Homo sapiens: one gene and its partners. The protein of the gene in region 1 purifies or fractionates together with the protein of each later gene. This does not show direct contact. Each region holds a gene or a part of one and is shown on either strand. Other genes may lie near its edges.

What was found.
Region 2: the proteins of PRC1 (region 1) and ACSM1 purify together in Homo sapiens (affinity purification with mass spectrometry; 2 studies listed by BioGRID and IntAct, with this or other methods). This does not show direct contact.
Region 3: the proteins of PRC1 (region 1) and ARHGEF17 purify together in Homo sapiens (affinity purification with mass spectrometry; 2 studies listed by BioGRID and IntAct, with this or other methods). This does not show direct contact.
Region 4: the proteins of PRC1 (region 1) and ZC3H18 purify together in Homo sapiens (affinity purification with mass spectrometry; 2 studies listed by BioGRID). This does not show direct contact.

What each region holds. Positions count from the first base shown.
Region 1 is NC_000015.10:90,984,533-90,991,567, forward strand, and holds part of PRC1 (protein regulator of cytokinesis 1), read right to left. Parts: intron 4,093-7,035; exon of another isoform or gene 3,098-4,092; intron 294-3,097; coding exon 161-293; intron 1-160. UniProt on the Homo sapiens protein: Key regulator of cytokinesis that cross-links antiparrallel microtubules at an average distance of 35 nM. Essential for controlling the spatiotemporal formation of the midzone and successful cytokinesis.
Region 2 is NC_000016.10:20,624,671-20,631,705, forward strand, and holds part of ACSM1 (acyl-coenzyme A synthetase ACSM1, mitochondrial), read right to left. Parts: intron 2,647-7,035; coding exon 2,519-2,646; intron 2,421-2,518; coding exon of another isoform or gene 2,406-2,420; exon of another isoform or gene 2,053-2,405; intron 853-2,052; coding exon 753-852; intron 1-752. UniProt on the Homo sapiens protein: Catalyzes the activation of fatty acids by CoA to produce an acyl-CoA, the first step in fatty acid metabolism.
Region 3 is NC_000011.10:73,303,366-73,311,309, reverse strand, and holds the start of ARHGEF17 (rho guanine nucleotide exchange factor 17), read right to left. Parts: upstream 3,035-7,944; 5' UTR 2,672-3,034; coding exon 1-2,671. UniProt on the Homo sapiens protein: Acts as a guanine nucleotide exchange factor (GEF) for RhoA GTPases.
Region 4 is NC_000016.10:88,629,395-88,632,491, reverse strand, and holds the end of ZC3H18 (zinc finger CCCH domain-containing protein 18), read right to left. Parts: intron 2,008-3,097; coding exon 1,911-2,007; intron 1,392-1,910; coding exon 1,193-1,391; 3' UTR 528-1,192; downstream 1-527.

The DNA of each region.
Region 1 (7,035 bases):
CAAATTTCAAGAAGGGACTTCAAAACCAAACCAAACCAAACAGGAAGAGCCTGTGCTATCCTAATGCCGATGATCACATGTCCCTTCTGTATGCTATCTCGGGTGAGACACCAACATCCTTACCCTGGTCCAATGCAGAGACCAGTACTATTCAACCCACCTTGATATGCTTCTTTACCACCTCAGTTCTTTGTAACCGCTGGTCCTCTGGAATCCCAATTAGCTCCCATATTTCCCGAAGGTGATTTAGGGCTTTCTGCAGACATACTATGGACTCCTCCGCCAGCACCTCACTGAAAACCAAAAACTAAGGCCTGTTAGTTACATCAGTCACAGCCTCTGGACTAAAAGCACTATTTTCGAGAACTAAAAAGACTAGCTTCTCAGTGGCCTCGAGAAAAAAACAAATTGAAAACAAGCATTCAGCTTAATTCACCTTTAACCACTCCCCATCCCTTTTCCTACCAAATGCCACTAGCAATACAAGATTTCATATCATATTACATCATGGAAGCTCAACCTTCTGGACTTTCAACAATGATCTACCTATGGAAGTATAATACAGAATTATAAATACTTTTACTAAAGAAAAACCGGACAAAAGATGTTGGTAAAATAAACTAACACAAGAACTTGCTGGTGAGAAACTCCTGCAAAATGTTTGGCAATTTATTACTATTTTTTTGGTGTTTTTTTTTTGTTTTTTCTTTTTTTTTGAGACAGCATCTTGCTCTGTCGCCCAGGCTGGAGTGCAGTGGTGCAATTTTGGCTCACTGCAACCTCTACCTTTTGCGTTCAAATGATTCTCCTGACTCAGCCTCCCGAGTAGGTGGGACTATAGGCAGGTGCTACCACACCCAGCTAATTTTTGTATTTTTAGTAGAGTTGGGGTTTCGCCATGTTAGCCAGGTGGGTCTTGAATTCCCGGCCTCAAGTGATCCGCCCTCCTCGGCCTCCCAAAGTGCTAGGATTACATATGTGAGCCACTGTGCCTTGCCATTTTATTTAATTAATTTATTTATTTTTATTTTCTTTTTTTTTTTTGAGACAGAGTCTCGCTCCGTTGCCCTGGCTGGAGTGCAGTGGTGAGATCTCAGCTCACTGCAACCTCCGCCTCCCAGGTTCAAGTGATTCTCCTGCTTCAGCCTCCCAAGTAGCTCAGATTACAGGTGTGTGCCACCACACCCAGCTAATTTTTGTATTTTTACAAAAACACAAAAATCCACCCACCTCGGCCTCCCAAAGTGCTGGGATTACAGGCATGAGCCACTGCGCCCGGGCCTAGTATTCTTAAATTGCAACCGGCAGCTCAAAGAATGGCTAAAGTTAAAAAGCCATTGAGATGGGGTTTCACTACGTTGGCCACGCTGGTCTCGAACTCCTGACCTCAAGTGATCCACCTGCCTCGGCCTCCCAAATTGCTGGGATTACAGGCGTGAGCTACCATGCCTGGCCTATTCTTCTTAAATTACAACTAGCAGCTCAAAGAATGGCTAAAGTTAAAAAGACAGCATTAAGTGTTGGTGAGTATATAGAAAAGTGAGAACTTTCATATGCTGCTGGCATGGTGTAAATTGGTACAACTATTTTAAAAACTGTTGGCAGTCTATCTACTAAAGCTGAACCCAGCAGTTCTACCTCTACATACATACCTAGCAGAAATGAACACATACGTTCACCAAAGACATATATGAGAATGGTTAGAGAAGCACTACTCATAATAGCAGGGAAACAGAAACAGCCTAGATGTCTATCAACAGAATGAATAGTACATTCCTACAATGCACTAATGCAGCAATGAAAATGAACAAACTGGCTGGGTGCAGTGGCTCACACCTGTAATTCCAGGACTCTGGGAGGCCGAGGGGAGCAGATCACTTGAGGTCAGGAGACCAGCCTGGCCAACATGGGGAAACCCTGTCTCTACTAAAAACACAAAAAATTAGCTGGGTGTGGTGGTGCGCCTGTAATCCCAGCTACTGGGGCGGCTGAGGCAGGAGAATCGCTTGAACCCGGGAGGCAGGGTTTGCAGTGAGCCAAGGTTGCAGTGAGCCAAGATTGTACCACTGTACTCCAGCTTGGGCGACAGAGCGAAACTGTCAAAAAAGAAAATGAACACACTACACATGATATGGATAAAGCTCAAATTATTATATTTCTATTTTATTTATTTATTTATTTTACTTTTTTGGGGTGATGAAATAGTTCTAGATCTTGATGGCGATTATACAACAGTATACAATTGAAACTACCTGTAAAGCGAGTCTGTTTTACTGTGTATGAATTATACCTCAAATCTTTTCATTTTTTTAATGAAGTAAAATAAACAACTAAAAAATAGTTGTAAGGGGAAGAGGAAGGAAAAAAAAAACACTTTAGGCTGAGCAAATGCCACTAGATATGCAAATGTGTATCACTATGTGATTCCGTTGACAGAGAGTTCAAAAACAGGCAAAACTGGCCAGGCACGGTAGTTCACGCCTGTATTCCTAGCACCTTGCAAGGCCGAGGCAGGAAAACTGTTTGAGCCCAGGAGTTTCAGATCATTCTGGGCAACATAGTGAGACTCTGCGTCTTAAAAAAAAAAAAAAAAAAAAAATTAGCCGGGCACGGTGACGTATGCCTATAGTCCCAGCTACTCAGGAGGCTGAGGTGGGAGGATTGCTTGAGCCTGAGAGGATGAGGCTGCAGTGAGCTATGATCACTGCACTCCAAAGCAACACCCTATCTCAAAAACGAAAACAAAAAAAGCAAAAACAAAACCAGGCCAAACTAATCAATGCTTTCAGAAGTCAGGATAGTAGTTCTTTTGGCTCAGGGGAGGCAGTGACTGGTAGAGGGCTTCTGGGTTGCTGCTTACACAGGTGCATCAACTGTGAACAATTCACTGAGTTTACACTTGATTTCTGTACGTTTCTGAATGTATGTTATTCTTCAATTACCAAAAGCTTATTTTAACAAAAAATTATTTATCTAAAATACAAATTTAACTGGCTTCTGTATCTTATCTTTTAAGAACAGCTTACTTTAAAAATTATCACAATTAGTCTGCTTTACAGAACATTTAAAGAATAGAAATTTTTCTCCCTTTTCTTAGGTATAACAGGACAACTAAGACTGCCCTGGCACCAGAGAAACTACAATCTAGATGTGCTCTGCTTCCAGTCGGCCGAGAAGCCTGCAGCAAATCACCTAAACACTTAAGGTCTTTGTGTGCCATCCACACCCAACTGCAACTAGAGACTTTCATTAGCCCCTTTCTGTCTCAGAGCTTTCGGTGGTTCTACAAGTCACCAGCCTGGATCTCTAACAATGTGTCTCTCCAAAGCTGTTAATACATTCACATCCAAAATATCTCCAGCCACGAAATCCTAGTTTAGAGGTTGCCCGTCCTTGTTGAAGAAACATTTCTACACAAATACCTGTTGCCTATACCAGATGGCCATACCAATACCCAAATACTGACAAACGTTTAAAAGAATTTACGGTACTCCCTTCACTTTAGAAATGTTAACAGTTCAAGTCCAACAGAACTTAAAGGAAAAAAAGAGAAATGTTAACAGTAAGTAAGGCATTTATTTAACATAATCTCAACTAAAGTCCAACTAAAGAGCTTCCCCAGGCAAACACTCCTTTTGCACTTCATTTTGAAGACAAAAGAATGCACAAGTTAAAATCCTAATATTACCATTTTATTAAAAATAACTTTTAAGATCCAATCTGTGGCCAATATTCGATCTGGATGCAAAACCCTGGCTTCCAGACAGGCCAGCCAGGGGCACTGCTCTGAAGGTCATTACTTAAGTATCCCAGTCTCCTCAGTCTGACAGACCTACCCCTGCCCAGCCAATCTCCACATAACAGCTAGTTGTTCATAATAAATCCCATCAGATCCCCGCTTAACTACTCCCCTTCAAAGGCTCCACTGCCCTCAGGAAATAGTTCAACCACCTTCTGTAGAAAGGCCTTCTAAAACCTCTCTCCGAGTCTGTCTGCTAATCTCTCCCACTTGACACTCCCCAGGTCTCTGGCCAGCTGAACTTCCCGGGCATTTCCTGAACAATGCCCCTCAATAAACCACATGCAACTCTCATTTTCTGATGCCACCGCGCTTTGTACATTCAGTTCCGTCTATATGCCACCACCTCCTCTGGAGAGCTGTGGACTTGTCACTCACCATTCCCCCCAAGCCCCCTAGTAGACCATAAACTCAAGGGCAAGGACCACCACATCTTATTCATCTTCATTTTACCACACCCTAACTCACAGTAGTTGTTCAATAGATATAAAATGAATGGCCCTGAATTCCTCCCAAAGGGTCCTATGCTCCTAACCTACCTAACCTAATAGAGGTATTATGCACTCTGGATCCTGACGAAGGTTTACAAGCAGGGCTGCCTATCTCTGTAACACATCTAGAAGGTAAAGTGATCGTTTTTCTGAGTAAAAAAATCTAGCACAATGGGCAAAGAATCTGAATAGACATTTCTCCAAAGAAGATATAAAAATGGCCAATAAGCACATGAAAAGATGCTCAATATTAGTCATTAGGGAAATGCAAATCAAAACCACTTCATAGCCAACAGGATGGTATAATAAAAAAAAATATATAGCAAAAAGTATTGGTGAGAATCTAGAGGAACTAGAACCCTCAGACACTGCTTGTGGGCATGCAAGACGGTACAGCCTCTTTGGAAAATAGTCTGGTAGTTCCTCAATTGATTTTTTGTTTTTTGAGACAGGGCCTCACTGTCACCTGGGCTGGAGTGCAGTGGTGTGATCATAGCTCAACGCAGCCTCAACGCCCTGGGCTCAAGCAATTCTCCTACCTTAGTCTCCCAAGTAGCTGGGACCATAGACGTGCCATCGTGCTTGGCTAATTTTTTTTTTTTTTTTTTTTTTTAAGGTTTGCCATGTTGCTCAGGCTGGTCTTGAACTCCTGGGCCCAAGCAATCCTCCCACCTCGGCCTCCCAAAGTGTTGGGATAACAGACATGAGCCACTGCACCCGGCCCCTCAGTTTAACAGAGTTCATACAACTCAGCAATTTTATTACTGGGTATTTGCCCAAAAGAAATGAAAACACATTTATACAAAAACTACACAACTGTTTATAGCAGCATTACTTATAATAGCCAAAAAGTGAAAAAAAAAATACAAATGGCCATCAACTTATGAATGGGTAAATAAAATGTAGTATATAGGCATACAATGGAATATTATTTGGCAATAAACCTTGAAAACATTATGTTAAGTCAAAGAAGCAAGTCACAAAAGACCAGAGCTACGGTTCCGTTTTTATGAAATATCCAGAATAGGTAAAAAGTAGATTTGGGGTTTGTATGGTTTTTTGAGACAGGGTCTCCCTCTTTCACCTAGGCTGGAGTGCAGTAACATGATCATGGCTCACTGCAGCCCCAACTTCCTAGGCTCAGGTGATCCTCCCACCTGAGCCTCCGGAGTAGCTGGGACTACAGATGTGAGCCACCACACCCAGCTAACTTAAACAATAAAATTTTTTTTTAGGCCGGGTGCGGTGGATCACTCCTGTAATCCCAGCACTTTGGGTGCCAAGACCGGCGGATCACGAGGTCAGGAGTTTGAGACCAGCCTGGCCAATATGGTGAAACCCCGTCTCTACTAAAAATACAAAAATTAGCTGGGTGTGGTGGTGGGCACCTGTAATCTCAGCTACTCGGGAGGCTGAGGCAGGAGAATTGCTTGAATCCGGGAGGTGGAGGTTGCAGTGACCTGAGATCACGTCACTGCACTCCAGCCTGGGTGACAGAGTGAGACTCCATCTCAAAAAATAAAATAAAATAAAATAAAAAATAAAATAAATAAATAAATAAATAAATAATTTTTTTTTTTTTTTTAAGAGGTAGAGTCTCTCTATGTTGCCCAAGCTGTTCTTGAACTCCTGGGCTCAAGTAGTCCTCCCACCTTGGGCTCCCAAAGTGCTGGAATTATAGGTGTGCGCCACCTTGCCTAGCCGAAAAGTAGATTTGTAGTTGCGGCTGGGGAGAATTTGGACCATGGGGTGAAAGGGGATTGACTGCTAATGGGATTTTAAAGGGGTGATAAAAATGTTCTAAAATTGATTGCAGTGATGATTGCACAACTCTGAATATTCTAAAAATCACTGAATTATAATATACAATTTAAGTACATTGTATGGTATGTGGATTATACCTCAAAGCTGTTATTAAAAACATCTTGGCACATAATCTAAAACATTTTTGGTTTCTTTTTTTTTTCTTTTTTTGAGACAGAGTCTCAGTCTGGCACCCAGGCCGGAGTGCAATGGTGTGATCTCAGCTCACTGCAACCTCTGCCTTCTGGGATCAAGCGATTCTCCTGCCTCAGCCTCCTGAGTAGCTGGGACTACAGGCACACGGCACCACGCCCGGCTAATTTTTGTATTTTTAGTAGAGACGGGGTTTCACCATGTTGGTCAGGCTGGTCTCAAACTCCTGACCTCGTGATCCGACCGCCTCGGCCTCCCAAAGTGCTGGGATTACAGGCGTGAGCCACTGTGCCCGGCCCATAATCTGAAATGTTTTTGATTTGTGACTTAATTGAAAAACTTACAGATTTTTACTATGGCCGGGCGCGGTGGCTCGTGTGCAATCCCAGCACTTTGGGAGGCCAAGGCGGGCGGATCACCTGAGATCAGGAGCTCGAGACCAGCCTGGCCAACATGGTGAAACCCCATCTCTACTAGAAATACAAAAATTAGCTGGGCGTGGTAGTGGGTGCCTGTAATCCCAGATACTCAGGAGGCTGAGGCAGGAGAATCACTTGAACCCGGTGAACCCAGGAGGCGGAGGTTGCAGTGAGCTGAGATCATGCCATTGCACTCCAGCCTGGGCAACAGAGCAAGACTGTCTCCAAAAAAAAAAAGAAATAAAAATTTTACTAATATATAACGTATTTTATTTGGCCTGTTGGAAATGGGTGTTTGGAATTACCAAACACCCATTATTATTATTCTAGTTAGAGACACTTCCTGTAAGAGGATCATTTTCAAATTAAA
Region 2 (7,035 bases), on another chromosome or scaffold:
GTCTCACATATAGAAGGTGATTAATAAAGACTTTTTTTTTTCAGATGGAGTTTCATTCTTGTCGCCCAGACTGGCGTGCAGTGGTGTGATCTTGGCTCACTGCAACCTCAGCCTCCCAGGTTCAAGCGATTCTCCTGCCTCAGCCTCTCAAGTAGCTGGGACTACAGGCGCCCACCCCCCATTCCACCCACCTGCCCCCACCACACCTGGCTAATTTTTTTTGTATTTTTAGTAGAGGTGGGGTTTCACCATGTTGGCCAGCCTGGTCTTGAACTCCTGACCTCAGGTGATCGGTCCACCTCAGCCTCCCAAAACATTGGAATTACAGGCATGAGCCACCGTGCCCGGCCTAATAACACTTTTCAATATACAAATGCATGTATGTTCGGGAGCCACATTGCTGAGATGCCATTCTGCCTCCACCCCTTACTCTAGCTGGGTGATGTGGAGAGGTTACTTAACCTCCTCCTGCTTCTCTTTCCTCATCTATAAAAAGCATAAGTGTTCTTAGATTACTACATTGTGTGAGAGTTAAGTGATTTGGCATATATAAGTGCTCATTACATAGTATCTAGCATCCTTTTATTCAGAGCCACAGAGAGTCCACACTGTCCCCTGGTGCCATACCGTGTAAACGCACATGCACACTATGCCCTTCCACCAAGGCTGCACAGGTAAAGCCTGGATGTTTCCCCTGCACCTGCTTTCCTAGTGCCCACGCACAGACATGATGATCTCTGTGTTCTCCTCACCTCCCCTCGAATCGGGTCTGGGCTGCCCACCACGGCTGACTCCGCCACCGCTGGGTGCTCCACCAAAGCGCTTTCAACCTCTGCAGGCCCGATGCGATACCTGGAGGATGAAGGGTTCTGAGGCAGATGCCAGGGCTGGGGTGAACCAAGTCCCCAGATCTCCTGCTTTGGAGTCACAGCTTCCTTTGGCACAGAGGGTGGAGGTCATAGGAAGCCAGGGACCCCTGACTTGTCTGTGTCATGGGCCCAAAGTGTAAAGACCTGGACATTATAGGCTGAGAAATACAAGACTGCGGTGCTCCCGGCTTCTTGCCTCACTGCCTGTACTGATGGAGGACGGCTAATGTTTTGTCTCCTCAGAGCTTGGCCCAAGCAGCTTCCCCCAACACGAAATCTCTTGGAAGCCTCAAACTTGGTCTTAAACATTCATGCAAATTCTGCATACTATTTCCCATTGTATCAGCAGGATTTTCGGCTTTTATTATATATACTTAAGGCTTACAACATGATGTTTTGATGTACATATACATAGTAACGCGATTAAAACACTCAAGCACACTAGCATATCCATCGTCTCACATAATTGCCTTTTTTTTCTTTTGTGGTAAGAACATAAAATCTACTCTTTGTGCAAATTTCCAGTACATCATGTTTTAGAAATTTAAAATAAAATCCCATCCAGGCTGGGCATGGTGGCTCACACCTGTAATTTTAGCACTGTGGGAGGCTGAAACAGGGGGATCAATGGAGGTCAGGAGTTCAAGACCAGGCTGGCCAAGATGGTGAAACCCCATCTCTACTAAAAGTATAAAAATTAGCTGGACATGCTCACTTGAAGCCAGGAAGCAGAGCTTGCAGTGAACCAAGATCAGGCCACTGCACTCCAGCCTGGGTGACAGTGGGAGACTCTGTCTCAGAAAAATAAAATAAAATAAAATAAAATAAAAAATAAAATAAAAAAATAAAAATGCCATCAATTTCTCTAAAATATCCAAGGGAAATTGTTACTGTAGTGTAATGCGCCTTTTTAAAAATCATGTAGGGGTAGGGACAGGGACTCAGAGCCAGACTACCTCAGTTCAAATCTGGATTGCATCCTGTGCTATCTTTGAATCTTTAGGCAAATTTCCTTGCCGGTCAGTGACCCACTTTCCTCGTTAGTAAAATAGGGATAATAATCACATCTCCCATCCAGCTTTGAGAGGTGGGTTATATAAAGCATTAAGGACAGTGTTTTCACATAGTAAGTACTCCAGGTTAGCTAAATAGTTACAGTAAATAATATATTTATACTAATAAATAATTTTATAATAATAGATTTATTATGCTCATAGATGTATAACAAATATATTCATAATAATAAAAATAAACAATAGCTAAAGGTTAGCTATTATTATTACTATGTTTGTCCTGTGACATTTGGTGCTGCATTAGAGGGGCACAAACATGAAATAGGCTCCCTGAACCTATGGAGACCAAGACAGAGTCTCCCTTCTCAATTCCACTCCCCCCACCCCACTGTAAATTGCACAGTGTCTTATTATGGCTCCTCTTCCAGACCCTCTTGAATTTCATTTTGCTTGATTCTTCTGCGTGCAGAGAAGGTTCGGGAGGTATACTGAAGCCTGGAATCAGGGCACCATAGACACGGCTCTATTCAGATTTAGGCTGAAATTTCACCAATGCGTGAAAAAATGTCTAGGTAAGCAAAATTCCGTGAGGCATGTGACGGCAACAACAGCCAGCCCAGCATCAGCCACACCTACCCAGAGGCATTAATGATGTCATCACTCCTCCCCAGGAAACAAATGTAGCCCTCTTCATCCATCTTACCTCTGTCCCCAGTGTTGTAGAAGTCCCCACATTCCACTTTAGCTGTCTTCTCTGGGTCACCCTGCAAAAAGAAGAGAGCTCCTTTGTTGAAGGCAGTGAATTTAGAGGTGATGAGCCACAACCTTGGGTTCCAATCTGGGTTTGAATTCTGCCTCTGTTTCTACTCGGTACCTGGGCAAGTTTTGCCATTTCTGAGTCTATTTTCATTACATGTAGCGCATGATGCATGCGACTGCTCTATGAGTGGTTGTGATTAAACCAATTTCAATGACAATGTTTAAAAATATCAATTCTGCCACGTGCGGTGGCTCACGCCTGTAATCCCAACACTTTGGGAGGCTGAGGTGGGTGGATCATGAGGTCAGGAGTTCAAGGCCAGCCTGCCCAACATAGTGAAACCCCATCTCTACTAAAAATACAAAAATTAGCTGGGCATGGTGGTGCATGCCTGTAATCCCAGCTACTGGGGAGGCTGAGGCAGGAGAATCGCTTGAACCTGGGAGGTGGAGGTTGCAGTGAGCCAAGATCGCGCCACTGCAATCCAGCTTGGGCAACAGAGTGAGACTTCATCTCTCTCTCTCTCTCTCTCTCTCTCTCTCTCTCTGTATGTATACATATATATATATATATATATATATATATATATATATATATATATATATATATATTCATTTTGTGTGACACTACACTAGAATGAAATTTCCATTATGGTGTGAACCTTGCTTACTGCTATAAGCTCAGCATTCACATAGAGCCTGGACAGATGAGAGGGGTCAATAAACATTTGCTGAGGGAATTTTCTTCCCTAAATACTATCTCATTTCATCCTCACAGAAAGCCTATGAGTCTAGTATGTTTTTAAGTTAACTTTTCATTTTAAGACAAATGTGGATGGCATGTAGTTATAAAAAATAATGTGGATCGATGCCCTGTACTCTTCACTAGTTTTCCACAGTGGTACCATCTTGCAAAACCATATGATCAGTATCTTAGGCAGAATACTGACCTTGATACAATCCACCAGTCTTCAGATGTCCCATTTCACTTGTGTGTCTGTGTATTTAGTTGTATGCAGTTTTATCACATATGTAGGTTTGTGCATTCCCCACCTCATCAGGAAGATCTCTGATGGTGCTCTTTTATAACCACACCCACCTCCCTCTCATTTCCTCTTCCTCTCCTCTCACCTTCCCTGACCCCTTGCTAACAACTAATTTGTTCTCTATTTTTATAATTTTGCTGTTTCAAGAATGTTATATAAATAGAATCATACAGCATATAACTGTTTGGGACTGTTTTTTTTTTTCTCAGCATAATCCCCCAGAGATTCATCCAAGTTGCATGCACAAACGGTTTGATCCTTTTTGTTGCTGAACAGTATTCCATGTTATGGATGTAGCTGAGTTTTTGTTTAACCATTTACCTGTTGAAAGCCATCTGGATTGTTGTCTTCAGGTTTTGACTATTTAGAGTAAAGCTGCTATGTACATTTGCATACATGTTTTTGTGTGAAGTTGGCACTTTTTTTGTCGCCCATTTTAAATAAGAAAAAAACCTAAGCTTGAGGGAGGCACATTTGCTTGCTCAGAGTCACTCAGCTGCTCACTGAGAGGGTTGATATTTGAATTTAATTCTTGCTTCATGACCGATTCACTTGACCCCTAAGCAATAGCTCTTGTGGAACATGAAATGGTTTTAAGAGCTACCCGAAAAAAACATTTTAAAAACATCAAATTACATCCCTTTTTGGATTCACTTCTGATTGTTCTGAGTATATCAAGTTGATTCTTAGTTTAGTGCTGATATGCTTTGAACTCTCTGGAAGTCTCAAGAGGAAGACATGCTTCAGGATCAGAGCTTCCAATGAGAATAGGATTTAGGGAGACTATGAGAAAATTGTTTTTTTTAAGCCTATAGTTATGGTTATAAATGCCTTCTGTTTATGGCAAGTAATACTGTTTTCCACTCATGATATTAGATCAATGTGAGTGCCTTTATGGACTGAGTTGAGAGGTACAAGATGACATCAACAACATAAATGGAAGATGGAACCATACAGGAGTACAGTTTTTTTTTATACAATTGAAGTTAAGTAGGTATTAATTCAAATTAGATTGTTACAACCTTAGGATGTTGTATGTAATATAGTAATCATAAAGAAAATATCTGTAGAATATAAACAAAAGAAAATCAGAAGGGAAAAAATGTGTCACTACAAAAAGGAAACTAAACGTAAAAGAAGGCAGTTATAAAGGAAATGAGGGCCAGAAAATATTAAGCCACACAGAAGACAAATAGCAAAATGGTAGAAGTCCTTCCTTATCAGTAATTACTTTAAATGTAGGTGGAGTAAGCTTTCCAATCCAAAGGAAGGAATTGGCTAAGTGGATAATAAAACACGATCCAAATATACACTATCTACAAGAGATTCATTTTAGATTTAAAGACACGAATTCCACTGGGCGTGGTGGCTCACAACTGTAATCCCAGCATTTTTGGAGGCTGAGGCGGGTGGATCATGAGGTCAGGAGATGGAGACCATCCTGGCCAACATGGTGAAACCCCGTCTCTGCTAAAAATACAAAAATTAGCTGGGTGTGGTGGTGTGTGCCTGTAATCCCAGCTACTGGGGAGGCTGAGGCAAGAGAATCACTTGAACCAGGAAGTCAGATATTGCAGTGAGCTGAAATCGCACCACTGCACTGCAGCCTGGAAACAGAGGGAGACTCCAACTCAAAAAAAAAAAAAAAAAGACACAAATATGTTGAAAGTTAAAGGATGGATAAAAATATATTCCCTGTGAATTGTAACCAAAAGAGAGCTTGGGTTGTGGGTTGTTATACTAATATCCGACAGAAAAAACTTGTTTTTTTTTTTTTTTGAGTCAGAGTTTCGCTCTTGTTGCCCAGGCTGGAGTGCAATGGCACGATCTCAGCTCACCACAACCTCCGCCTCCAGTAGCTGGGATTACAGGCGCATACCACCGTGCCCGGCTAATCTTTTTTATTTTTAGTAGAGATGGGGTTTCTCCATGTTTATCAGGCTGGTCTCAAACTCCTGACCTCAAGTGATCCACCTGCCTCGGCCTCCCAAACTGCTGGGATTACAGGCGTGAGCCACGATGCCCGGTCAAAATAAAGTTTAAGTTAAAAATAATTGCAAAAGATAAAAAATGATATTGTCTATTAATAGAAGGGTCAATTCACCAAGAAGATATAATAATCATAAACATATAAGCAATAAACCTCAGAGCCCCAAAATACATGAAGCAAACATTGTCAGAATTTAAGGAAGAACTGTACAGTTCTACAGCAATAGTTGGAGAATTTAATATACCACTTTCAATAACGAGTAGAAAAACCAGAGAGAAGATCAATAAGAAAATGGAGGACTCGAACACCACCACAAATTAACTGGATCTAGCAGACATATACAGGAAACTCCATCCAACGGCAGAAGAACACACATTTTTCTCAAGTGCACATGGAACATTCTCAAGGATGGACCATATATTAGGCCAGAAGAGAAGTATTAATTAACTTTAAAAGACAGAAATTATACAAAGCATCTTATCAAGTCACATGAAAGGAATTAACAGAAGGAAAACTTTTAAAAAATCACAAATTTTCCCAATCTTTGCAAAATTAAACAACATACTCTTAACTAACCAATGAATCAAAGAAGAAGTCACGAGGAAATTTAGAAATTATCTTGAGACAAATGAAATAAAAAACACAGCATATTAAAACTTATAGATTGCAGCAAACACAGTGCTAAAAAGGTAATTTACACACATACTGTCTTAGCCCATTCAGGCTGCTGTAACAAAATGCCATAAACTGGGTGGGTTATAAACAATAGATATTATCTCTTAGAGCTCTGGAGACTGGGAATGCAAGATCAAGTCACCAACAAATTTGGTGTCTGGTGAGGCTTCATAGATGGCTGTCTTCTTGATGGGGCCTCACATGGAGAATGGGACTCTTCTGGAGAACCCTACTGGAGTTGCTTTTTAAAGGGCACTAATATCACTAATCATCAAGGAAATGCAAATTAAAACCACAATGAGATATTACCTTACTCCTGCAAAAATTGTCATTGTTAAAAAAATCAGAAAACAATAGATTTTGGCATGGTTGTGGGAACACTTTTACACTGCTGGTGGGAATGTAAATTAGTACAGCTGCTATGGAAAACAGTATAGAGATTCCTTCAAGAACTAAAAGTAGAACTACCATTCGATCCAGCAATCCCACTACTGCGTATCTACCCAAATAAAAAGAAGTCATTATATGAAAAAGACATATGCACATGCGTGTTTATAGCACAATTTGCAATTGCAAAGATATGGAACCAACCAAAGTGCCCATCAACCAATGAGTGGATACAGAAAATGTGGTATATATACACCATGGGATGCTATTAAGCCATAAAAAGCTGTGAAATCATG
Region 3 (7,944 bases), on another chromosome or scaffold:
CAGGTAGGGCCCTTTCAGACTGTGCCCGGCTCCTGGTGGCACCAGGTTCTTCTGGCTCTGCCCGCTGCTCTACAAGGATGGGCTCGCTGCTGGATGGAGGCAGCATGGGCTCAACTTCTCGGATGGGCTCCCCTCCAGGGCCCTCGAATCCAGGCCCAGCCAGCTCCCCACGGCGGCTGGGGTCACTCAGGGATTTCTTCTTGGGGGCTTTGCCAGCAATCCTGTCGTCCACCACACGCCCCAGGGTGCCAGGCCCCTGAACTATGCTCTGAATAACCTCCTGATATCCCTTGCTCTCTTCACTGCCCACAGACCAGTCACTGTGACCACTGGTCAAGCCCTCATCCATGGCTGAGGTGGCAGGGAGCCCTGTCTTGGGGCTCAGTGAGCCCAGGAGGTTGCTGTCCACAGAGAACCCAGTAGGCTCTTCAGAGGTGGCAGCCCGGTGGCGCTGAGGAATTGGGTCACTCAGGGACCTGTAGGCCTCCCCTGCCTCCCCATTGCTCAATTCGCTCCCACCAGAACCTGAAGGTGGGACTTTGCGTCGTCGGCGGAGGGCACCTGGTGTGGGAGGGGTCTCAGGCGACACCAGGGCCCACCCGCCCAGACTGTCCTCAGTCCCAGGGCCATGGTGGTTCGTCTGGGCCGAGGATGAGGAAAGAGGTCGCCACATCCCTGTGGTACCCAGGCCGCAAAATGCTGCAACAGGAGGCTCAGGGTCTGCCCCAATGCCTTCATCTGTCAGACTGGACTCAGGGCCTGAGAGCTCCTCCTGGGACCGCTGCCCTCGGGTCACATCCCCTGCCCAGTCAGGGCTTCCAGGGGGGGCATCGCTTCCATCATCTTGTTGGGCACCCATGCGCTGGATCTTCTCAAAAACCTGGCGGGCCTCCTGCACATATTGGTCCTGGACGATGAGGGGCAGCGGATCCTCCTCGGCACCAGGGCCTGTGAGCAGGAGCTCGGAGGAGCTGGACTTCAGAGCACTGGTGCGGGGCAGGCGGCGGGCCATGGGCTTCTCAGAGCAGGTGAATGACTTTGCTCTCCGCAGAGTGGCTGTCAAGTCCTTGAGTGTGGGGCGCGTGCCAGGTGATGCTGGGGCTGGGATGGGTATGGGTTCAAGTTGCCCCACAGGGCCACCTGCGGATGGTGAGTCTCTGCCATCTAGGGGGTTGCTTCCACGGTCCCCGGAGCTCCCACCAGGTTTTCGGACCCTCAGCTCTGAAAGGTCTGAGCGCAGGAAACTGAGAAGCGTCAGGGTCTCTGAGGCGATATCTGGATTTGACAGGGACTTCCGCTGTCGACTCTTTTCAGGCTCAAATCCTCCATCCCTCAATGCCCTAGAGGTGCCTCCAGGTCCTTTGGCACGGGTTCGAGCCTGGGACCGCAGGAGCCCTTCCCCAGCTCCAAAGCTAGGGGAGCGGTACACGCCCCAGCCCCCAGAACCCCTACTAGACCATAGGTCGTCGTCCTTGAGGGTCTCCGTGCTGGAATAACGGCTGCTACCGCGGGAGCCTGCGGGGCTGGCCAGGTACGAGGGAAAGCTCACCTTGGCCACACGGAAAGCTCCTCCCACAGAGTCAGACATAGGCCGAAGTCCCTCCTGGGGACCTGGGACGCAGGGCGGAGAGCCACTACCCCACTCCCGGAGTCCTTCTTCTCTAGGGGCTCTTGGAGATGTTGGGGGCTCAGGGCTCCCAGAAACCCCTGCTGAGTTCATGCTGCTTAGATTTAACCCATCACTGTCAGGCCTGCAGTCCTGATCCAATAGGGAGCTTCCAGGCCTGAGCCCGGGCCTCCCTCCCCAGCGGTGGCCGCCCTCACCGTCTCGGTCGTCGTCACTGCCCGAGGAGTGGCCGCCGTGGTAGGCCGGACTCTGGGCTCCAGGCAGCTGCGGCGGGCCCTCCTCTTCCTCCTCGCTGGAGCTGGCAGCACGACTGCGGCTGACAGGATAGGAGGCGGCGATGGAGGAGGAGGAGCAGGAGGCCCGGGCCCCGGCCTGCGGTTGGGAGAAGATATGCCAAGAATGTAAACCATCCGCTGGACGCTGCGCCCGCTCCTGTTGCTGCTGCGGCCGGCGCAGCCTCCCTTCGGTCTCCGGCCCGGTCAGGGGCCGCGCCGAACGCAGACCCGCCAGGGGGAAGCATGTCCGAGGGGGTGGCGTCGGTGGCTGCCGCGACTCCCGAGCCGGAGGCTCCCACGCGGCACCGTCGGGGCTGGGCGTTCCTGGGGATTCAGAGTCGGCGCTGGGCCTCCTGGAGCCAGGACCGCCGAAGAGCTTGCGCATCTCGGTGACGCTGGGCCAGGCTCCTCGCGCTGGGCCCTCGGCCGCTTCTTCCGCGGCCGCGGGTAAGACGCCTCCGTCTCGGGTCCCAGCGGAGCCGTCGTCCAGACGCGGCGCGTCGAAGCGCCGGGAGAGCTGGCGAACCGACGGCGAGAGGCTGCGGAGCGGGCGCGGCTGCGCGGGGGCGGCCAGGGGCCCAGACGCCAGCTTGGACACGCGCCGAGAGGGCTGGCCCCGGGCAGCCGTGGTCGGCCGGCACGAGGCGCGTCGCCTCAAGCCGGGGGTGTCCGTGTCCTCCTCCCTCAGCCCGGGGCCGCCGCTCCAGCGCTCCAGCAGCTTGAACGAGACGCTGCGGTAAAGCTGGGGCCGGGGTGCCCCGTCCGCCATAGTGGCGTAACTCACTCCGGGGGGGCTGGCCTCGGGCAGCCGCGGCCAACCCCCCCTGCGCCCCCACTCCCTAGGAGCGCAGCGGCCCACGCCGAAAGCAGCGCACGGGAGTGTGGGAAGAGGACGCAGAGACCGGAGCAGAGGTTTCTCTGCCGCGGCTCAAGTTTCTGTGGCCACCGGCCGCAACGTCTCCATCCCGGGCGGCCCCTCCCGCCTCAGCGCCGACCCCCAGGCCCAGCCCCCGCCGCGGCTGGAGCGACCAGGGGCACCGCGGCACCGCCTGGGCGGGATCCCAGCGCTTGGTTCCTCGACTCTGCGTCCGCCTGCCCAACGCCCTTGGCTGCTCGCTCCTGGCACCCTTTTGTTGCAAATAAACTTTGCGGCAGAGGCAAGGGGGCGGGGGGCGGGGCCTCGCGCCCAAAAGAGGGGGTGGGCTCCGGGCGTGCGCGAGCCTGGGAACCGCGTGGTGGGAGGGAATCAGGGAGGAGCCGAAGAAGAAAAAGCCTGCTGGAGGACTTGCAGACTGAGGCGACCCTCTGGCCCTCCAGAGAGGTCCCTCGGGAGCCCAGCAGGCCGAGCTGCCCCCAGGGAGTCGCTGAGACACACACAACCGCTGAGCGTGCTCAGCTCCGCAGACTCGCAGCCAGGGCGCCGCGTCCACCGCGGGCCACCAGCCTCCGCGCGGAAACACCTCCTGCCCAGGGGCTCCAACATGGCAACCTCGGACTCACAAACTCTCGTACACACTGACACTCAGGTGCACGCAGACGCACACTCTCTGGGCCGGGAAAGGGGTGGGACTCGGCGCCAGGGAGAGCCCGGGGAGCCGCGGGCTAACTGAAGGGTCCGTCGCGCCCTACTCCCCGCCCAGGCCACGCCTCCTCCCCTTCCCTCCCCCTCCCCGCCCGCCCTCTGCGGCGAATTTAGCTGTAGCCACGCCCTTGTCCCCCCATCTCGCTCCCAAGCGCCCCGCCCATCCCACCTCCCAGCCGCCTGTCCGGCTCCGACCGGCCCCCAACCCGCCCAGCGTTGCTCCAGAAGTCCCACCCTTCACGACCGCGCCCCCACCCCTACTTTTCCAGCTGCCACGCCTTCCACCTGCCCCTGCAGTCTGGCGGCTCTTCTCCTGGACTCTCCGCCTGGATCCCCGAGCCTTTTCTTCTTGCTCTGGAGTACGCGGCTCTTGCGCCCCCTCGCGGCGTGATTTTCCCAACGCACGGAGTCCTGGACGGATAAAGCAGCACCCATCCCCCAAAAACGGAGAGTTGTGAAAACTTCCTTTCAGTCGTTACCTAATCCCCTTAGTCTTTTTCAGACCTTCGCAAAGCGCACTGCCCCTTCTTAGGCCTTATACACAAAAGGAGCTTCGACGGGAACGCCCTCGACTTCCCACTGCCAAACCTATACTCTTACCCGCAGCTGCTTCACCTTCTTGGCAGGAAAAGTGTCGGTTGTTTCTCTGGCTTCACGCTGATCCCTCGCTTGAGCTCCCCTCCCGCCCCTGCCTCCGTCTGAGTCTCACATTGTTCTCGGTATTGGGGCATCATCCCCTTCCGCATTCCCACCTGCCTCTAGATCCCATTCATCCTCCCGGCCCAACTAACGAATGAACGAACGAATGAAAATGTATGGAGTACCTATAATGTATGGGCAATATTATTTAACTTATTTTTTAAAATCCACAAACCACCCTTGGGGACAAATATTATTACCCCTTCTCTGTGGACCGTGAAGGAGAAGTAACTTTGACCACTATGCAAGTCAGGAAATAGCAGCTCCTGCTAAAATTCAGATTTCAGGGGCTTCAAACACCATGCTCCTCCAGCCAGCTCTGAGATGCACCCCCAAATCCTGATGAAGAAGGAGGTTCTCGTTCCTTTGAGCCCCCAGTCTCCTCCTTCTCCTCCTTGGGCCTGAGCTCACTCTCCTCAGGAACAGAGGATAACCTGGTCTGACCCATGCCCCTCCAGCGCTGCCCAGCCTTCTTCAGGCCTGGTCAAACTGCCCTGGCCCCTCCAACCCCCAGTAGCAAGGCCTCGGGGACACATAGTTAGGTCAGCAGTCTGTGCATTACCCAGCCAACCCCACTGCCACCAGGTCCAGCCAAGGAGATGTAGCTGGGCCAGACTAGGCTAGGAGACGGGGTTCAGAGGAGAGGGGCAGGCAGGAGGATAGGAAAGGATGGTAGACACCCAGGGATTGCCTGACTACCGAATGAGAGAGAGAGGACTCAGCCGGGACTCCAGAACCTGCTTGCTACTCATATACCCCACAGGATGAGGAGGTCACTCTCCACTCTCTGGGCAGCCTCTTGAGTTGTGGAATATCTCTGTAGCAAGAAAGTGCTTCCTCTCTGTGTTGAGACCAGCATCCAGGGAGTCCCTCACCTCAACCTCATCTCAGCTCTGCCTCAAGGGGGCCAAGGAGTAAATCTCTCCCTTTTCTCTAGGAAATTGATAAAAGAGAGCCCTGCTGGCCTGTGCCTCTCTGTTCGGCCTTACTCTGTGACCTTGGGTAAATCCCTGCACTTGCTGGTGTCTGAAAAGTGAGGAGTGGGGTGTCTGAAAAGTGAGGAGTGGTTCAGGTTCCCCAAGAGTGCCCTCTCTGGCTCTGGCATTTGATGTCAGACTCTCACCTCCTTTAGTATTTTCTTTCTGCTCTTTGGGGCAAGTTTTGGTGTGTGCTGTGGGGTGAGTTGTGGAGGGGTGAGTTGGGGAGGGGTGAGTTGTGGAGGGGTGAGTTGTGGAGGGGTGGGTTGTGGAGGGGTGGGGGACAGGACTCTCATCCCAGGAGTCACTCTCTCCCCCCATAATGATGACTCTTACTATCTGAAATTTGTACTTTTCCACCTCCCTGTCAGTTCTGGGACAGAAACCCTTATCCCATATCACAGATGGGCAAGTGGATAGAGAGGAGTGGAGGTTCAGGTCATGGGCTCCCAGAGTCCTGTGGCTTGGCCTTGAGGTGAGCTGGCTGGGGCCTTTGGCTCAGGAATCCCCTTGGTGGGGAGGGGGGTGTTTAAGGATCTAGACTGGGTCTCTGTCCAAAGGGAAGCTCACCCAATCTGAGAGTGGCTTGATTGCTTCCAGTGCTTCAGGAACCCTCCCACCCCCAGCTCCTTATGATCCAGTATAAGACAAAGTTATCTTCCATGAACAGAAGAGATCTGGAATTTTAATGGTGCTTGGTAATTATGTACAGCAATTTTTAGCCCCAAGAAGACTTATTTGATAGGGGGCTGGGAGCACTGGGCACCAGAGTGGAGAGAAACCCTACGCTGGGGTTTTGAAGCCAGGCTCACCTTCCGCAGCTCACCCCCTTTTCTCTGGGCCCCAGGCTCCTCACCTATGAAAGGGTAATGAAAACAATAGCCCATCTACCCAGTGAGTCATGGTGATCTAGTGAGGTGAGGACCGTGGAATCCCTTGGGGAAATCAAGATGGGAAGGTTTTGAAGGTCACAGGTCATGGCCAGTGATGGGCTTTGGTGGGCTTCGGGTACAGATAAGTCCCCAGCTCATGATATTTCAACTTAATGATTTTTTGACTTTATGATGATGCAAAAGCTATGTACATCCAGTAGAAACCATACTTTGAGCACACATATAATCATTCTGTTTTTCACTTTCAGTATTCAATAAATTACATGAGATATTCAGCATTTTATTATAAAATAGGCTTTGTGTTAGATGATTTTTGTCCAACTCTAGGCTATGGAAGTGTTCTGGGCCTGTTTAAGGTGGGTTAGGCTAAGCTCTGATGTTTGGTAGGCTAGGTGTATTAAATGTCTTTTTGACTTATAATATTTTCAGTGGGTTTATTGGGATGTAACCTCATCGTAAGTCGAGGAGCAACTGTACTTAAGAGGGAGAGAAATGATGAGTGCGGGGACAAGAAGCAATGAGCTCCATGAAGGAGCTGTCTTAGGGGGAAATCTGACTCTTCTGACTCCATTGCAAAGCCAAATAGAAACTATCTGAGATTGCCCCCTTTCCTATATAATTAGACCTTAAGCACACAGGATTAAATTCTTTATAATATTTTGATAATGATACATTCTCATCAGTTATTTAATTGGCTTTCGCCAAAAAACAAAACAATACAACTAGGACCTTTAAAATAATTCACATCTCATTATACAGTTCTTCTGCTCCCATCCTCCTGCTGTCCCACCACACAGAAAATCAGAAAATCATCATCTCAAATCCTGTGTTCAGCATTCTCTTGCTTTCCTTCAAACATATTCCTTCAAACTATATATTCCTTCAAACTATATCTTTTCATTTTAGTTGTTCTTAACTTTATAAAAAAAAAAAAGGCATCCTGCTGGACGTGGTGGCTCACGCCTGTAATCCCAACACTTTGGGAGGCTGAGGCGGGTGGATTGCTTGAGGCCAGGAGTTCAAGACCAGCCTGGCCAACATGGTGAAACCCAGCCTCTGTTAAAAATACAAAAATTAGCCAGGCGTGGTGGTGCATGCCTATAATCCCAGCTTCTTGGGAGGCTGAGGCAGGAGAATCACTTGAACCCAGGAGGTGGAGGTTGCAGTGAGCCAAGATCACACCACTGCACTCCAGCCTGGGCAACAGAGCAAGACTGTCTCAAAAAAAAAAAAAAAAAAGGAGGGGGGTTTCTTGCTTTACAAAATTTGTTGGGACTTCTTTTTTCTTAATATTAAGAAAAGATTTACCCATATTGTTGCATGCCTCTATACTCCATTCTGGCCATGTGGACTATTTCAGTGTGTGACTATATCACAGTGTGTTGATCCAGTGTCTTGCTGATGCACATTTGGGTGTTTCCAGGTGTTTGCTGAGCATTGTGCATGACTCCAGGTACACATGGACAGAAGTGCTTGGGCATAGGGCAGGCAATTGATCAACATTGGGAAGCATTGTCAAGCTGGGATCTAATTTCTCGTCTATGTTTTTTAATCATCTGTGTTTCCTTTTTTTTTTTTTTTTTTTTTTTTGAGACGGAGTTTCTCTCTTATTGCCCAGGCTGGAGTGCAATGGTGTGATCTTGGCTCATTGCAATCTCTGCCTCCCAGGTTCAAGCAATTCTCCTGCCTCAGCCTCCCAAGTAGCTGGGATTACAGGTGCATGCCACCACGCCCAGCTAATTTTTATATTTTAGTAGACACAAGGTTTCACCATGTTGGTCAGGCTGGTCTCAAACTCCTGACATTGTGATCCGCCCATCTCAGCCTCCCAAAATGCTAGGATTACAGGCATGAGCCACCACGCCTGGCCTTGTGTTTCCTTTCATATGAA
Region 4 (3,097 bases), on another chromosome or scaffold:
GGCCCTGGAGCGTGCACCTGGGAGGCCGCTGCCCAGGCGCAGGCCTGTGGCTTTCAAGGTGGAAAGCAGGGAGCAGCAGCGGTGGGTCCTGGGGGGCTCTGCCGGTGGCCCCTGCTGTGGAACGTGGCATCACACGCGGGGCCTGGCTCAGCAGGTCTGGGGCCTGCACACGGAGCCGGTGGTGGTCACTGCAGTGGTGGCAGCTGGGCTTGGGGCTGGGAGTCAGCCCTGGACCTCTTCCCCTCCAGCAGCTCCACGGCCCCTGCAGGGAAAGTACCTCCACCTCACGGACCAAGGAAGCCCCAACCCAGCCCCACGAATGGGGAAACTGAGGCGCAATGCTCTCCTGGGCTGGGTCTGAAGGCAGGAGCTGCTCCACAGCCGGTCCTCCCGGGGGGAGTGAGTGCACAGCCACACCCTCGCCCCCCAGCGGCTCCCGAGTGCTGGGCCGAGTGCAGTGCACGACACAGAGGCAGCCCCGGCTGCGCATGGGCAGAGGGCGCACACACCACGAGGGCAAGGACAGCTGCTTATCAAAATATTTTATTTTAGGAGACCCCTCAAAAAAAGACCCACCACATTAGACAGACGCCCCAACAACACCCTTGGCCTTTTTTTGGTCTTTTCTGTATTTTTTCCTTTTTAAATCAACTAAAACAATTTGATGCTTAAAATAAAAGACAGGAAATATTTCCTGATGAGACTTTAGTCGAGAATATAGATATATTTCTGATCCGGGGGCGGGTGATCAGGGGCGGGGGAGGAGAAGGATGTGCCACCAGTGGTTCGCGAGGTTCCGTTTCTCAGCTCAGGAGGGAGCCTGGCTGCCTGGACCCGGGCTAGGGACCCAGAGCTGGGGCTCCACAGGCCTGACCAGGGCCAGGGAAGAAGACGGAGGAGGAGGAAGAGAAGGCGGGGCTGGCGGCTGGGGCTTGTAATTTACATGAGAACCGTGCTGGTCACTAGCGCTGTCTGTGTCTGTCTGTCCTGCGGGACTTCTGCTCTGGGGAGGGAGGCTGGGATTCAGCGTCGTTGTCATTTCCTGTGTGGCTTCTTTTCCAGCTGAGAAACTTTTTTTTCTTTTTTACTTTTTAAAAAGAATCACAGCCAAAATAAGACATTAACTGCAAAATCCAAAATGGCTGCGCTTACCCTATGTATAAAAATGCGTCCAGTCCGGTCGGGGCACGGCCTATGCTTTCCCGGGGATCTTGGCCCGCTTGCGTGCAATAGCATCCTCCACGGCCTTCAGCTGTTTCAGCAGCTCCTCCCGCCGAGACAGCGTGCTGGCCTTCCCTGATTTGGTGCTGGCGGCGCCGGGATCCGAGGCTTTGCCGGGCACGCTCGTGACCTTGCTGGAGCTCTTGGACTGGGGTGACAGCTGGCGCTTCCTACAAGGGGGTGGGGAAGACCTTGAGCCCCCAGAAGCCACGTCTGCAGGTGGAAGGGGTGACCTCCCCGTAGGGGCGCTTCCACTGTGTCCTCAGCGGCCACCAGGACAGGCAAGGGGCTCCCTGGATGGCCAGGCTCCCACTGCCACAAGCAGGCCTGGTCCTAGCCACTGGCTCCCGGGCTTTGTGGAGCAGACTGGGAGGGTCCTGGGCTGGCCCCGCACAACCTCCTGTTATTCTTCCCACCTCTGTGCCCAGGGATCTTTTGCCCAAGGGCATGCGGAGCAGAGGGCACCCTCCAGCCTCAACCAGGGCAGGAGCGTGTGTGTGTGTGTGGGGGGGGGTGGGGGGTGGGGCTGCAATTCGCTGTCCATGCCCCTCACCCCGTCAGACCAGCAGGAGCTGTAGTGACGCCTCCAGCCTGGCCCAGTGCTAGCCCTGCTGCTGCTGGCCTCCCTGGGGAAGCGACTGGGGCTGGCCCCCTCGGTGTGCCCAGGGCACATGCTGGGTGGGACTCACCTGTCAGCCGGGGCTGCAGGGGCTTTGGAGTTCTGGCCTCTCTGCCGCTCTGGCTTCGGGGAGCCCAGTCTCCCACCTGACTTCCGGTCCCGAGAACCTGGGTGATAGGTACAGAGTGAGACCACCCTCCTGATGTACAGGGAATGGCTGTGTGGGTGGCCTCACCGATGCCAGGGACTCACTTCTAAAGCCTGAGGCTGCTTAGTTCACCACCTTCATTTTTATAAAGAAATAAAAAGGGGAGAGCCAAGTAGGAGAAGAGAGATGTGGGCACCAAGGCATCTGGAAATGAGGCTGAGGCCAAACCTGGGCCCCAGGTTCCAGCAAGCAGCCAATATCTCACGCAGAGAGACAAAACTCCTTCCTAGCTTTGAAGAAATTTATCACATGGGTCTTCAAATACGGAACAACAAGAAAGACATGGCAGTAAAGAAATACAAGCAAAGCCGAGAGACTAGGAGTGTTTCACTCTGGCAATGTTAGGAGGGAGGCGCGGCAACCGAGGGGGGGGCCACTGCCCAGCGCAGGCCCAAGGCTGGTGCGAGAACAAAGGTCCGCAGGACCCCAGAGGCCCTGGTTCCAACCCCAGGCAAGGGCAGCAAGGCTGTTCCAGACCAGCCACACAGGGCACAGGCCCTGGGCTTAGGGACAAAGGTGAGCAGCTTCCTCTTCCTGTGTCCGACAAACCCAGAGAACTGCTTGGGAAGGGGTCTGGAAGCCCCCTGCCTGTTCTCTGTGTCTGGGAGTGTCTGTGCGGGTGGCCAGGCCCCCTTGTCCTCTATCTGGTTTGAGCTCCACCCATCAAAGCCAGCCAGGACAATCTCCCTGTCTTTCCATCTGGGCCCCAGCTCTTGGGGTGTGGTCAGCATGGCTGGGGGTCCCCGAGGCCCTTTCAGGTCTGTGTGGTTCAACAGTAATATAGACACTATCTGCCTCGTCACTCAGTCCGCAGGAGCCTGGGAGGATCTCCAGAAGGCACGAGGCATGTGGGTCCAGCCGTCTTCCGTCAGCCAGACTGAAGAGATTTGCAAAAATGGAAAAACCAATGCCATTCCTGCTCATTTGTTTTGGAAAATATATTTTGCAAAAATGGCACATGTGTAAAAAAAAATACAGTTGCTCTTGTTGCCCAAGCTGCAGTGCAATGGTGCAATCTCAGCTCACTGCAACCTCTGCCTCCCAGGTTC